3 separate regions of the Homo sapiens genome follow, and all the other regions are linked to region 1. The links come from fine-mapping of genetic effects on gene expression. A gene starts in region 1. Each other region holds a variant in brackets. All regions are shown on one strand. Distances are from middle to middle.

What was found. PIP is the estimated chance that this variant, and not a neighbour inherited with it, causes the effect. A credible set is the group of variants that fine-mapping cannot tell apart.
Region 2: its variant is the best candidate, but not a certain one, in a credible set for the expression of EMID1 in pancreas (GTEx, PIP 0.56).
Region 3: its variant is the best candidate, but not a certain one, in a credible set for the expression of EMID1 in tibial nerve (GTEx, PIP 0.58).

The regions. Positions count from the first base shown.
Region 1 is chr22:29,204,722-29,207,221 of GRCh38, reverse strand. EMID1 (EMI domain containing 1) reads right to left here and starts at 1,326. Exons shown (of 15, transcript NM_133455.4): 1 at 1,083-1,326. The coding sequence starts at 1,183. It overlaps LOC101929638 (a long non-coding RNA gene), which reads left to right and starts at 1,390. Exons shown (of 5, transcript XR_938134.3): 1 at 1,390-1,751; 2 at 1,901-2,062. RefSeq lists silencers at 892-951, 972-1,131, 1,142-1,231.
Region 2 is chr22:29,231,456-29,233,955 of GRCh38, reverse strand. It overlaps EMID1 (EMI domain containing 1), which reads right to left. Exons shown (of 15, transcript NM_133455.4): 7 at 2,274-2,363; 8 at 1,554-1,700; 9 at 488-577; 10 at 290-342. Among named protein-coding and RNA genes, the nearest start is that of EMID1, 27 kb to the right of the region's middle. RefSeq lists an enhancer at 1-311. The variant G/A (reference allele first, on the strand shown) is at 1,204.
Region 3 is chr22:29,175,917-29,178,758 of GRCh38, reverse strand. No RefSeq gene overlaps it. Among named protein-coding and RNA genes, the nearest start is that of EMID1, 29 kb to the left of the region's middle. The variant A/G (reference allele first, on the strand shown) is at 1,582.

The sequences.
Region 1 (2,500 bases):
TGCTTCAACCACCTCCGTCCTCCAGCCCTGCCCATGTCAACTGCTCTTGCTAGCCCAGCAGGGGCATGCTGGCCCCTGACCACTGGGAAAGGAGAATTTCTGAAAAGAATTAAAGAATTGAGGCCGTAGGGGGTGGGGGCCGCGCAGGCCTTTGAATGGGATGAAAAGGCCTGGAGAGGCCTGGCTACTCCACATTGTCTGCCTTGGACAACGGCGGCTGGCCTTTAGGAGGGGACCCTCGCTGGGGCTGCAGCCAGGACAGAGGCCAGGACAGGTTCAAACACTGTCATCAAGGATAGAAGGGCAGATTTGCAACCTAGCTCTTCAGTGAATAGCCCATGAGGCTAAAAGATGATGCCAATTCCCTAGGGTCTCAGTTTGCTTAACCGTTGAATGGGGACAGTTTTCCCTACCTCATTCGGTCCTTCAAGGATTGATGAGGACACTATATATAATAATGGGCCCCACCATGTCAGGTTCTGGGAGCTCCTCCGTAAAGGCCAGCAGGGAGGAGGTTCCCCGCCGCTAGGAGAGCAGAAGGAAGACTGTGCTCCCTCTTTTCTCTGTCCAAAATGCCAGGTCCCTGGGGTATCTCCGACACTGACCCACTGGGCTGTGAGACTCCACCCCAGTCCCTCCTCCGAGGGAGATAAATAGCCTGGGTACAAAACAAACAAACAAAAAACAAAACAAAGCAAAAAAACAGGAACAGGGAAAAGGGGAGAGAGGGTCCGAGAAGAGTCGGCTAGGGGGTGTCATAGGCCTTTCCCAAGTGCAGGGGGAGGGGCCCTAGGGACAGGGGAACAGAAGGGCCAGGGCTTCGCCCTCGTTGCGCCCCTTCCCCCTCCTCTCGAGCTCCTGGGTTGAAAGGGAGGGAGTAGGGGAGGCAGCCAGCTCCGACACATGGAGTAGGGGACCCCGCACTCGCGGGAGCCTCAGCCGGACCGCGGGATGGCCGTGTCCCTGCCCTCACCCGGGCTGGGGACTGGATCGCCCTCCAATCCCAGCCCTTCCTGGAGGTGGGGGCGTGTGCGCGCCGGGACCCTCGGCCAGCGGGGTGCAAAGGCGCCGGGAGCTCTTACCTGCGTCCGGAGAACGGAGCTGCCCCGATGCTCCACGCAGCGCCGCCTCCCGGGAGCAGGAGCCCGAGGCAGAGCAGCGCCCAAGCCCGCGGGCCGCCCATGCTGCACCAGGCGCCCTCCGCGCGCGGCCCCTCGCGGTCGCCGCCCCCAGCCTGTCCTCCCCGCCTGCCTGCCCGCGCCGCCAGCCGCCCCGGACGCGCGGAGCCCGGTTTCCAGCTCCGCGGCCGGAGGGCGGGCAGGAGGCGGGCGGGCGGGGGCGGGGGCGCGCGCTCCCGGCCTCGCCCGGCCCCTCTGCGCTGCCCCCCGCCCCCTGCGCCGCCGCTGCCAACCCGGAAGGAGCCCGGAGGGGCCCGGGCGGCCAGGGCGCCCCCGCCAGGAGGCCCGCCAGGTGTCCACCTGAGCCCCACGCCCTGCGCCGCGGGGCCCTTTTGGGGGCGGGGTGCCAGCTCCGAGGTGTCCTCCCACGGGCTGTAGACTGGGAAACTGAGGCCCGGGCCACGGTCCCAGACGCAGCCGGGACCCGAACCCACCTCACCTGAGCGAATGATATCCGGGACTCATCCTTTTTCGACACCTTTGCGGGATCCAGCCCTCCAAGGAAAGCTTCCTGAGCAGTGCGCGCCACGTGTATTGGGCACCTCACCGCGGCCACTTCACATCCTATCTCAGGTGACTCTTCAAGCCACTCTGCTCGAACTGGGCACAATATCCCCATTTTACAGAAGAGAAAACTGAGGCCCAGGCACTCGCAGTCTCCCTAGGAGGAGATCTGGGCTGACCCCATAAGTGCAGAGTCTGTTCTTATTCTCATTTTACAGGTGGAGAAACTAAGCCACAGAAAGGAGCTGTCATTTACCTAAAGCACCGTGGCAGGGGTTTGGCAGAGCCAGGATTTGTACCCAGATCGCCTGACTTCGGAGAGTAACAGCTCTTAACCACAGCACTTCGGTCTATGCCTTGATTTCACCATATGTAACAAGGTAAGAATTGGTGTTGGGTGGTTTCATCTGGGGTACATGGATGGGCTTCTGGAGGAATGGCTCTACATCCCACAAAGGTATATGTAAGCGTAGTGTGTGTGTGCAGGGGTGCATGTGTGTGTCGTATGTGTGTATGATGGATGTGTGTGCATGCTTGATGTGGATTTATGTGCATGTGTGTTATGTGTGTGTCTGTGATAGGAGTGTGTGTTTATAGGGAGAGACCAGAGCTCTCATCAGAGGGGACCCAGACCCCCAATCTCCCAGGGCAGTCTCTAACCCCGCCTTCTGCCTGGATCGATGGGCAGTAGTTAGGCCTGGGCTGGGGAAGCCCTTGCCCAGCTTGGCTACTTCCTGTTATGGCTTGTCCAGACCCACGGTCCCTTCTAGAAACACTCCCCAGAAAGGATCTGCCAGTCACTGGATTGCCCCTCCTGG
Region 2 (2,500 bases), 27 kb before region 1:
CAGACAGTCCCACCACAGCTCATTGCCATGTGCTGGCACAAGAATCTCTACTTTTCTTGGTCTTAGGTGATAACCACACATGGTTCTCATTACTTGGATTGAATAAGATTTATGGAAGGTAGTTTGCATATTAAGTGCTCAATAAATACTTGTTGAATGAATGAATGGAAGGATGAATGGATGGATGGATAGATGGATACAAGGGTGGATGATGGACAGATGTATGGATGTATGCATAGATGGAAAGATGGACAGACACATGGGTGAGAGTACAAGGAGAACTACTCACTATGTGACCAGGACTCCCAGGGACACCTGTGGGGCCAGGAGGCCCAGGGGGACCTGGAAAAAGACAGGATGTCCTAAGGGCCGGAACAAAGTACAATCTCAGGAAGTGCCCCATCAGCTCCCTCCTGATAGCCACAAACCCTATTCCCTCTGCCATCTACCAACTTCACCCTTTACCCCTGGCCTGGACTCAACTTACCCATGGGCCCTGGAGGGCCTGGAGGCCCAGTGGGTCCCTGGGGCCAGTGGTTGTTGGTCTCAGTGAAGGTGTTGGACAGCAATGGGTCTCCTGGGTGAGCAAAGATGATGAGTGAGTAGAGCTGGGTAGAGTGGGGTGGTTAGTCTTCACCTGCCACCTCTGCCAAGACAGCTTGGACTGCCCTATGGGGCAGCCTGCAGCATGGCTGGTACCACCTGGGCACCTGCTCCAGGGTGAGGAGTGTGGAGAGTGTTGGTCCCGCAAGACCAGGAGGCAGGGAGATGTGGGTTCTAACCCCACTGCAATCCAGCTGGTGACATCCAGCAACACTTTCTACTTTTCAGAGCCTGTACTGTCACCTGTCAAATGGGAATGACAATAAAAGATACCATTTATCCACCACCTACTGTGTGCCAGGCTTCTGTACATGGATGTTACGCAGCTCTGGGAGGCTGGCACTGTCATTGTCCCCATCGTATGGATAGTGAGATGGAATGAATGCTGGGATGGCAGAATGAATGAATGGTGTGCTGGGTTGTGCACCAAAAACACAGTGGAGAAGAGGCTGAAACCTGGCGCTCCACACTCTGACCCCTGGCAGCCCATGGGCAGGTCAGGCTGGGCTGCCAAAGGGAAGAAGCCAAGGACGCACGTCAGGGCCTGGAGGAGGGGCCGGGCCTGTGGCCTTGGGAGTTCAGGACTCACTTCCTGCCGCC[G/A]GGTCTTTTGCGTCCCAGTGTTCCGAGAACTGGATTCCAGCCAGTTCCAAGGCTTGGGAGGGCCTGATGCCCGGTGGCTCTAAGCACAGGTTCTGGAGGCAGCCTGGGTTTGAAGCCGTTCCCCTACGCCCAGGCTGTGGGACCCTGGCAAGCCACCTTCCCTCTCTGGTCCTCAGTGTTCCTCACCTGTAACCACAGGAGGACAACGGCGCCTGCTGGAGGACTGGGTCACATGTGGCCTATCGTGAGCAGGGCTGGCACACAGAAGGCACGTGGCAGATGGTAGCGGGCACTGTGCTGATGGCTACTCCACCCCCACCTCCACCTGCTGGGATCCCAGGGGGACTCACCATGCTGGGAGATCCGGGCATGGGGTGGCCCAACAGGGGCTGGGGGCCCAGGGGGGCCAGGAGGCCCTGGTGGCCCAGGAGGTCCCCTCTCTCCAGGGGTGCCCACAGCTCCAGCCCGGCCAGGGCTCCCTGGGGGGCCCTGTGGACCTGCAATGGAATCACACGGATTTGTGGGTATACAGGAGGCAAGGAGGCCCAGGGTGGCCTTGAGCGACAGGACAAGGCAGCCTGGAGCAGTGGGCATGAGAGAGGGCCCCGGAGTCCACAGGCCTAGGCTGCCTGGTAGTCTAACAGGGGGATGAGCACAGCACCTAGTTCTCCACCTCGTCCAGGCTGAGTCTTCCTTCCTTGGGGCTCCCAAACCCCCAAAACCCCTCATAGAAACCCTGGTCACATGGGGCAAGCATTGCTGCTTCTCCTCTGCCCAGCCCTGCTCCCAGCAGCATGGAAGCTCCAGAAGGGCAGGGACATGTCTGACCCCACCCAGTGCCCAGCTCAGAGCCTGATAAGTGTAGGTGCCCAGGGAATGTGGGTCAGTGAACATAAGAGAGGACTTCATGGAGCCCAGGCGTGGGCAGGGCACTCCGTGGTGGGGTGCTGAGTGAAGAGGCAAGTAGATGAAAGGGCCCAGGTCATCCTGGCCATGTCAGGAGCAGGGAAGGGCCCACCTGGTGGAGGGGATGGCCAGAGGAGCTGTGGGGCAGCATTGCGGGCACTCACCTGGTGGGCCTCTCATCCCCATTGGGCCCCGACTGCCGGCATCTCCCTTGGGGCCGGTGGGCCCGGGAAGCCCCCAAGCACCGACTTGGTCTGGGGGGTAAAGCATATCAGACTGGCAGCTCCACATCTGCTCTTGACCCCCACCCTGGCCCCAGCCCCCCAACCAGCATCTACCATTTCGGGGAAGCAGCGGGACCCTCACACTCTCTATGGCTCCTGGCAGCCCT
Region 3 (2,842 bases), 29 kb after region 1:
ATACTGTAATAAAAGTTATATGAATGTGGTCTCTCTCTGTTTTCTTTTACTATACTATGGGTAGCCAAAACCGTAAGAAGTGAAACTCCAGATAAAGGGGGACTACTGTATTATTTATTAATAAATAGTCATGAGTCACTTAACGATGGGGATATGTTCTGAGAAATGTGATTTGATTTGATTTCATCATTGTGTGAACATGACAGAGTGCACTCACGCGAACCTAGCTGAGATAGCCTACTACACACCTAGGCTATGTGGTGTAGCCTATTTCCCCTAGGCTACAAATCTGTACAGCATGTGACTGTACTGAATACCATAGGTAACTGTATCACAGTGGTATTTGTGCATCAAAACGTAGAAAAGGTACAGTAAAAATACAGTATTATAATTTTTTTTTTTTTGAGACAGGATCTTACTCTGTTGCCCAGGCTGGAGTGCAGTGGCACGATCTCAGCTCACTGCAACCTCCGCCTCCTGGGCTCAAGCCATCCTCTCATCTCAGCCTCCCATGTAGCTGGGACCACAAGCACAAGCCACTATGCCTGGCTAATTTTAAAAAATTTTTTTGTAGAGATGGGGTTTTGCCATGTTGCCCAGGCTGGTCTTGAACTCCTGGGCTCAAGCTACCCACCTGCCCTGGCCTCCCAAAGTGCTGGGATTACAGGCATAAGCCACTGCACCTGCCCCAGAATTATAATCTTATGGGATCACTATTGTATATGTGGTCCATCATTGACGGAAATGTCATTATGTAGCAAATGACTATTACATATTCAGAGACAACTTCTGGTATAGTGGTGTGAGGAGCTCCACCTACCCTCTGCCCAGAGAAATAACTATAACTGGTAAATATTATATGAAAAAACAACCATTTAAAGTCTCTGGAAATTGTCCTGAGGTCACACAGCAAATGAAACATTTATTCAAGAAAATCGGCTGGGGCCGGGCGCAGTGGCTCACACCTGTAATCCCAGCACTTTGGGAGGCTCAGGCAGGCGGATCATGAGGTCAGGAGATTGAGACCATCCTGGCGAACATGGTGAAACCCCGTCTCTACTAAAAATACAAAAAAATTAGCCAGGCGTGGTAGTGGGTGCCTGTAGTCCCAGCTACTCGGGAGGCTGAGGCAGGAGAACGGTGTGAACCCGGGAGGTGGAGCTTGCAGTGAGCAGAGATCGTGCCATTGCACTCCAGCCTGGGCAACAGAGTGAGACTCCATCTCAAAAAAAAAAAAAAAAAAAGAAAGAAAGAAAAAAAAGAAAATCGGCCTGGCGCAGTGGCTCACGCCTGTAATTCCAGCACTTTGGGAGGCTGAGGCAGGCGGATCATGAGGTCAGGAGTTCGAGACGAGCCTGGCGAATGTGGTGAAACCCGGTCTCTATTAAAAATACAAAAAAATTAGCCGGGCATAGTGGCACGCGCTTGTAGTCCCAACTACTCGGGAGGCTGAGGCAGAAGAATCGCTTGAACCCAGGAGGCAGAGGTGGCAGTGAGCCGAGATCACCCCACTGCACTCCAGCCTGGGCAACAGAGCAAGACTGTCTCAAAAAAAAAAAAAAAAAAAAAAAAGAAGAAGAA[A/G]AAAGAATCTATTTAATCTCAGAACAGTAGAACAGTGAGAGCCTGTGGCATTTGAGCCATGGCCCATTCTCTCCCTTCCCCGTCCCCCCAGCTCAGCGAGATGGATGTTCTACTCCAGGTGGATGCAGCCAAGAACACAGGTCTCCCTCTCCTCAGTCTCAGCTGGGGAGCTAGAGTATCTCCCTAGGAAGGGCAGGACATCAGCATTTCTCATCCACCACGTCCTGTGTTGTAGATACTCCATTCTAGGCAAGAGTGGCTGAGAGTTCTGGGGTTCTCCTCCTCTACCCAGCCCCACTCTGTAAGGTGGAAGCTCTACCTTAGGTGCAGCAGGCCAAAAAAATGCCTGGTTGCATTTGCCCCAGCTCATTCATAGGGTAGAGGTTCCATAACATAAGTAGCAAGCCAAGAAGATCAGAAGCTACTGCCCCATCCAGCAGCCTGTTCATAAAGCACGTGTGTTATTCTCTGAGAAGGGGGCCCATTCTCCCTACCTCCAGAGCAGTTGTGCAGAGGTTTTGCCCAGAAAGTGGCAGGCTGTAAGAACAGAGGGATCTTAAGGGAACTGACTTCCTTTGGAACTGAGTGTGGAGGAGTTCCAGCTTAAGGGGAAAAGCAATGGAGATTTTGATGGTAAGCAATTTTGGTGGCAAGCAATTATGAGGAGGCTAGTAGCTTGTCAGATTAACAAACTAAACTATAGAGTAGCTACTGAGAAGAACGCTCCTGGAGTTGTAACAAACCTCAAAGACTGGCCTCAAAGAGTACCTTTGCAAAAGGGCCTGAATTTAATTGAATCACATGTGGAGCAATTTCTACCCCAGGGCACTGTTGAAAACAATAGAGCAATTAGTTATCAATGGAGGATAATAGCTGGGTACGATTCCAACAAAGCCAGACAGCTTGACAGAGAAATCATAAAAAGAGACAAAGAGACCCCTGCTAAAACCACTGTCACCTAGGGTGACCCCGGTCATGCCCAAGGCTGCTTTCTCTGAGGAGTAAAATCAGAAGCTGCATACTTAGGAGAAATAGACTTCGCTAAAATAGTCCAGCTAAGTCACTAAACAAATAAGCAAACAAAAAAGAGCCCCAGAATGTGAGAGTTCAGTGTTTAGAGTGCTACAGTATATTCTCTAAAATGTCCAGTGGTTAACAACCATTTATGAGACATGAAAAAAAAAAAGCAGGAAAGTGTGACCAGACATAAGAAAAAGAAAAGCAGGCAACAGAAACTACCTTTAATCTTCAGAGTATGCAA